Linked DNA regions of Homo sapiens. The protein of the gene in region 1 interacts with the protein of each later gene in a pairwise test. Each region holds a gene or a part of one and is shown on either strand. Other genes may lie near its edges.

Region 1 (3,827 bases):
TTCCTCATTGGGAAGACAGCTGACTCTGGGATCAGTGGAGGCAACAGCTGTTCCACCGCCAGCCAAGTTCTCCGAGACTTGTTCCTGGAACCTCGGTCTAGACTCAAGCTCCTCAACAACTCTGTAAGTTATCGCATATCCCTTAAAAAAAAAATGACTTTCTGCTTAACTAGAGTGGATCGCGTCATTCATCTGCAACAAACAGCCCAGAGAAATATATATTCACTTGTTAACTGAGTTCAGTTTTAGTAGCTATAGTATAAAAAAATTTTATTCTTCTAATAATTATTTTCAATACCTTTTTTACTTCTATTTCTTCCTTCAGCTCTGTGATTCTACTTGTATTCCGTGCAAATTTGTTTATCTTTTGTTGATCTTCGAAAGTAACATTGACATCTTCTGCAGCCTGAAAGAAGTGTTTAAGTTTTTGTAAAATTTTAACGGAGAAGTTATCAGTTAGCTTTTTATATTTCTCAACAATAACTCAATAAGCCATTTGCACTCATATAGTCAAGAATCACAAGAAGTACAGAACATAACAAATGCCTTATTTTTTGCTCCACAAGCTTAAGGTTTGTTTGTAAATCTATAACCTTTTCTGATACTCCATAAAATAATTCCTAAGCTATAAACATATTGCAAACATAAAGAACAATTAATAAGTCCTTTTAAAAGGAAAGAAAAAAAGCCAACTTTTGGCACAGAGCAGAATTTCTCAAGTTGGAGCATTCTTTCATTAAGATGACCCAGGAAACAAAAAGTTACATGGTCAAATATATTGGTAAATGTCTCAGAGTAGTGTTTTTTTTTTCTTAGAGCTAAAACTTGCATGAGCTTACTGGCTAAAGGGTCACTGTACATTTCAGTGGCTCTATTCCATTCACAGCAAAAATTATGTTTATAATGTAGGACCTGTTTAAATGTCTTAATAAGGTCTACTTTACTAAAAAATGATGAAAATTGAATGTTTAGTATTTAAAAATTAATATTTAATGTGATTAAATTTACAAATTTGCAAATAAAGAGTACTTGGATAACATAAAGTACCAATGAAATAATAAAAAAATAGCTAACACTGATTGAATTTACTATGTGCCAAAACTTCCTAAGTACTTTATTATCTCTGCTAATCCTGCAATCCATCTTATTAGGGAGGATCACCAGCACTATTTTACAGATTGAGAAACTGAGGTACACTTTATATAATATGGCCAAAGCCACAGAGCCAGTAGGTGGTGGAACTTGATTTCAACCCAGGCAGACTGGCTTCAGAGGTCAGACAGGTCCATGAGTTCTCGGTAACTGAATGTGAACGTGCGTCTCTGTGAGTGTGCACGTGTGTGTGTGAGTGTGTACACAGGCTTAGGCACATCTGGAAGAGGCAGCAGGATGTCTGCTTTCATCAGATTCTCAAGGAGGTACCATATATTTTTAAAAAATAAAGCTAAAACATAAAACCAGACTCTCCTTAGGGTTTCCCTTCCATTTATAAAATGAAAACCAGAGCACCTGATTCTAGTTTAAAGAAGAAAAGATATTTGTGTGTGTATAAAAATAGTTCATACTGAAACACTACTTTTGGCTCTTTTGCAGTAACAGTAATGAGCTCACAACATTCACACTCCATCCCTGACCTGGTCTCTCATGACCATCGACTTAAGGTATGTGAACTTTTATTTCTCAGAGGTTGAAAGGCAGTGTCAAGCAATACAGAGCTCAGTGGTCGGAATATAACACAGTCCTCCCCTTTGTTAGGCTCTCATTCCAAGAAACAATTTCACATGCATTATGCCCCACCTCAACAACCCAGAAGATAGCCTGAAAAAATCCTTTACATCACACTATGTCTAGCTTTGAGTGTTCAACCGTATGCATAATTTTGATGAATATGGAAGTTGGGGAACACTGAGCTACGCTCAAGAAACCAAAGTCTATATCTTGGCACACAAGTCATTTTGCCTAAGTGAGAACTGTCAATTCCCTACGCAAATAGACAGCAGAGAATTCTGAAGAGTTCCTGTTTGCCTGAAGAGTATATGCCATTTTGTTTAAATATTGAACCCCCAACAGGCATTTATAGATGTATTTGTCTTGGTGAGGGCTCAACAGAGCCATTCACATGAACGGATCCAGTGCAGGACTGCCTGGCACATAACTAAGGCTAATACATGGTTTCTGAATTTGAATCTAAATCATGCTTGATCAGACTCAAACACATAGTTTCCAAAATGTGGTAGAGAGAATTTGGCTATCTGCTTTCTGTCTTTCCAAAGCAGGAATTTCCTGTTGTAGCCCCACCAAACCACAGGCATCAGCACACATGTGGCCCCTGGTATCCAGATCTTTACAGTGGTTTTCCCACTGGGGTTAAGGGCTAAAGTTGATGTGTGAGTCAAATATACTGCATGCCGCCCAGTGGAGTGCCATTTACAGCAGACAGTAAGATGTCAGTGCCTTTGATGGCTAACAGAGGCTTCTGTTTTAGTCTCACTGTCCTAGAACATTCCTACATTTCTTGAAGCTGCATTTTGGCAAGAAGTGGGTAATTTTTTTTTTTTTTTGGTGAGACAGAGTCTCACTCTGTCGCCCAGGCTGAAGTGCAGTAGCATGATCTTGGCTCACTGCAACCTCCACTTCCCGGGTTCAAGCCATTCTCCTGCCTCAGCCTCCCAAGTAGCTGAGATTACATGCACATGCCACCATGTCCGGCTAATTTTCGTATTTTTAGTAGAGAAGGGGTTTCACCATGTTGGCCAGGCTGGTCTTGAACTCCTAACCTCAGGTGATCCACCAGCCTCGGCCTCCCAAAGTGCTGGGATTACAGGCTTGAGCCACCACGCCCAGCCAGAAGTGGGTAATTCTTAACTGGGGGGTGGGGGTGGTCAATGGACATTGACAGGTCGATATACCCAGAGACTGTATGCAAAATGGCATGTATAGTATGTGCATCCTTCTGGAAGGTCTTCATAGCTTTCACCAGATTCTCAAAGGGATCCACAACCCCAAAAGGTTAGGAACTCCTGCCTTCAGGGAAACCAGCTGTAGCTACTCTCAAAGTCAGAAGAACTCTAGGAAGAACTCATATCCTATAGTATCTGAGGCAGCACACAGAGTGGTGGGAAGAGTCAGGCTGCAATCCAATCCAAGCAAACAGGAACCTTGGGCAAATTACCCAATTCTTTGGAACCACCTCAGGTTTCTCATCTGTAAAATGGAGAGGCTAGTTCCTACCTTATAGGGTTGATAAAATGAACATGTAGGAGAAAGCCTGATGATGGAGTCAGTCAAATGATAGCTAAGCATTTTACATCCTGAATATTGTTTATCAAAAATCATTACAAAGAACAGATCCAGATCTAGAAAGAAATTCTGCTAGGCCAAAGAGAAATATGCCTGCTCGGGATCCAAAGTAAAAATTAAAATTCCCTGGGCTCTTTTCTTGAGAACTAATATCTTACGGGATTAGAGGAGGAAACTGAACCATACTCAGTCATGCCTCACACCAAGTCTAGGTATTACACGGAGTCTGCACTGACAGCTGGGTCCCTAGAAATAAATTCTGGCCAATTTCAGTCTTTTATTTTTACTTTTAAAAACATATCTACCAAGTCTGTATGATGTAAACTTTTGCTTTGTATTTGTATTCAACCTTCTTTGTTTGTTTTTTTGTTTTTGAGACGAGTCTTGCTCTATCGCCAGGCTGGAGTGCAGTGGTGTGATCTTGGCTCACTGCGACCTCTGCCTCCCAGGTTCAAGCGATTCTCGTGCCTCAGCCTCCCGAGTAGCTGGGATTATAGGCAAACGCCATCATGCCCAGCTAATTTTTG
Region 2 (3,768 bases), on another chromosome or scaffold:
CCTCTTCTCTCTGCTGATCTTTAAACCCTACGCCGCCTTTAAAAAAGCAGCCTAACTTTTATCTTCTCAACAAAGCCTTCTTTGAACTAAGTCCAGCCTACATCTATCTTTCCCAAAGTTTAAATTGCCTTGGTGTTGCATATGTTAACTTACTTATAGTTTGCTATGAATTATCATTCAGCTGTTTTACATGTACAGTTCTACCAGAGAAAGGCACTGCCACTCTTTTCTAAAATTGATTTTCATGCCCCATATGTCTTAGCACAGTTGCAGGAACATAGGAGACCCTTAAATGCTTGTGAAATTAAACTATTTAACCAGTTATAAAGTTGTCTTGGGAAAATATTTGGAAGAAAAATACTTACTCACCTATGTGAATTTGCTGTTTCCACATCACATTTCAAAATCACTAATCTATCTACAAACTTATTTAAGTACTAGTTCCGAATATCTTATTTATTATCTTATAAAATCTATAACCTTTATATTAGCCTAATAAGGAAATTCTTCCCACTAAAGCAATGTAAGAAAGAATGTGGGAGGTTTTTTGTATTCTAATTTTTTTTTAGTTCTAGGGTACATGTGCAGGATGTGCAGGTTTGTTACAAAGGTAAACGTGTGCCATGGTGGTTTGCTGCACCTATCAACCCATCACCTAGGTATTAAGCCCAGCATGCATCAGCTATTTTTCCTAATGCTCTCCCTCTGCCCATGAAAGAATGTTTTTTTAAAAAAATCTTTCTCCTTTTTTCCCTTGCTTTTTGTTTTAAGAAAGGATACTGACTTCTGTGGTAGTAAATTGATCTCGAAGAAAGTCAAGGTCTTCCTCCAGGGAATCAAGATTCTTTGTGGCAGTCGATAAATTCTTTTCCAACAATGCCTGAGCTTCATCAATATCATATTCAAGCATTACATTAGCCTGAAGAGAGAAAGTCATGACAATTACTCAATATTTACACAGAGCTTTATAGGTTAGAGTAAAGTGTGGGCAAACTACAGCCCTCAGGTCAAATCCAGCTTGCTGCCTTTTGTTGTAAGTTAAGTTTCACTGGAGCCCAGCTATTCTCTACTCAGGCTTTCATACCACAATGGCAAAACTGAGTGGTTGAGACAGAGACCATGTGATCTACAAAACCAAAAATATTTACCATTTGACCTTTTACAGAAAGTTTGCTGACCCCTTGGTTAAAGAATATATTTACATACATTGTATCATTTAATCCTCAACCCTGCTGAGGCCAAAGTTGTCTTCTTCACAGTTAAAGAAATGAAGGCTCAGGTTTCCTTAGCTGGCATAGCTAGTGGGTAAATGGGAGAATCAGGATAAGAAACCAGTATGTTTAGATACAAAATCCTATCTTTCTACTACCTCCATCGTGAAACTAAATAGTGTTGTTTGTATCAATTTAAATAAATTCTGAGCTTGAGATATGATATTAATTTAAAATTTTTCAAAGACATTTATTATCATCTATATTTGACCAGGTAAAAAAGACAGCTAGCTTTTACCTGTCCCTTCCTACTACTTCTGACAGATGTTAGGGATTAAGACAAGGTAATGTGTCTGTCATTCTGAAGATCTAGTGTTACTGCCAACATTCAGGGATGCATGTACCCTGGAATTGGGAAGCCACACCTTTTACAGCTTTGAACTCTCCCTATCACCTGACTTACCACTGGCATTTCCTAAACCACTTTCCTCATCTCACAAATGCAATTTTAAAATTACTCAAAGGATTGTTGTAAGGATTAAACAAGACAACATGAAAGTATTTGGCACAAAGTAAATGCCAAATAAATACTTATTGACCAAATAATCCAATCCATAATTAGAAAACTGTATTAAAATTCAGATAGGACAAAAATATTCAACATAAGCAAAGACTGAACATAAATATAACAAGAATCCACAAAGAAAAAAAAACCAAAGCAGGGGACCAAAAAAATTTCTAAATCCTTCATTTCAACAAAATGTTCCTGAAATGTGACACATGCACATACTACACACACACACACACACACACACACACATACACACACACACACTGGGTGAAATGACACGCAAAATGAAATGAAAGGGTACTTTGTATACCTGGGGGAAACTGACCCAAAAGTCCTTTGAGCATCCAGGCAAAAAGAACACATCACTCATAGAAGAAAGAAATCAGTTTGCCCTCACACTTTTTGACAGTGATGCTTTACAACAAAAGAAAATGGGGCACTGTATAAGATGCTCAAGGAAATAAAATGTGAGTTTAAGATATTATATCCAGCAAAACTGAATTTCAAGTACAAAGGCCACAGACAAGTTGTCAGCAACATGAGATAACTCAGGGAATATCATTCCCATAAATCTTAAGGCAATCTACTTATCAGACGAATGAGTAACATACAATCAAAATGACTGGATGATGACTGGGGGGACATCAACATAAAGACTATGATGTGCATTCAATATTTACACGAAGAACTAGGATAAATGAAAGATGAGAGAGAGAAAGAGAGAGAGCAAACAGTATATAATGGCTCTGTGCTCCAACAATGTGGGAACAACCTTATAAAGAATGTGTAAGGACAGGAAGAACATATGCAAAAATGTCAGTGGTAACAGTGTTGGGTGGTGTTATTCTAAGAATGCTTTGCGTGTGAATAGTAATGTTGTCTAGCTTAATTCTATCACCCTTGGTATTTCTGAAAACCAGGATTCTTGATATAGAAGAAACAGGGGGGCCAGGCGCGGTGGCTCACACCTGTAATCCCAGCACTTGGCAGGCTGAGATGAGTGGATCACTTGAGGTCAGGAGTTCAAGGCCAGCCTAGCCAACATGGCGAAACCCCGTCTCTACTAAAAATACAAAAATTAGCTGGGCGTGGTGGCACGTGCCTGTAATCCCAGCTACTCAGGAGGCTGAAGGAGGAGAATCACTTGAACCCAGGAGGCGGAAGTTGCAGTGACCCAAGATCACGTCACTGCGCTCCAGCCCGGGCGACAGAACAAGACTCTGTCTCAAAAAAAAAAAAAAAAAAAAAAAAAAAAACAGAGGAACAACTAAAGTGAAAACTCTGTTGTCCTGAATTTGAATTGGAGGTAACAGTATGAAACCATGAGGTACACACATATTAACCTGAACCTTTGCACACAAGTTTATGCAGGTTAGCTATATCCTACTGGTTCTATTTCTCCGGTTGAACCCTGACAACAGATTCGTTCACTTACACTTTGCTTTATGCAGTTTTCTGATTTTTTTGTTTATATTTAATATTATATACATATAGAAAAGTATTCATATCATAAATATATAGCTTGATGTATTTTCACAAACTTAACACACTCATGGAACCAGCATCCAGATCAAGGACAGGTTATCACCAACACCCCAAAGCTTCCTTGTGAACATTTTCAGTTACCACCAGCACCCCCACCGCAAAGGTAACCATTAACCTGACTTACAGCATAGTTTTGCCTGTATTACAACTTTACATAAACAGAATGACACAGTATATGTGCTCTTTTGTGACTGACTTCTATAGTAGGCAAGAATTATGGCTCCCATAACAGCTGTCTCATTCTAATCTCTGGAATCTGTGACTCTGATGAGATATTTACATCATTTGTCAGAGCTGACCTTAATATACAGACTGCCTAGGTAGGCCTAATCTAGTTATATGAGCCCTTAAGAGCAGAGAACTTTTTCTGGCTGGCAGCAGAATGAGAAGTTTGAAAGATCTAAAGTGTAAGAAAGACTAGTCATATCACTGCTTTGAAAA

Evidence for each region.
Region 2: the proteins of PFDN4 (region 1) and VBP1 interact in binary tests that used the Homo sapiens proteins (3 or more experiments, as listed by UniProt).

The regions. Positions count from the first base shown.
Region 1 is NC_000020.11:54,210,930-54,214,756, reverse strand, and holds part of PFDN4 (prefoldin subunit 4), read right to left. Parts: intron 407-3,827; coding exon 299-406; intron 1-298. UniProt on the Homo sapiens protein: Binds specifically to cytosolic chaperonin (c-CPN) and transfers target proteins to it. Binds to nascent polypeptide chain and promotes folding in an environment in which there are many competing pathways for nonnative proteins.
Region 2 is NC_000023.11:155,233,380-155,237,147, reverse strand, and holds part of VBP1 (prefoldin subunit 3), read right to left. Parts: intron 920-3,768; coding exon 781-919; intron 1-780. UniProt on the Homo sapiens protein: Binds specifically to cytosolic chaperonin (c-CPN) and transfers target proteins to it. Binds to nascent polypeptide chain and promotes folding in an environment in which there are many competing pathways for nonnative proteins.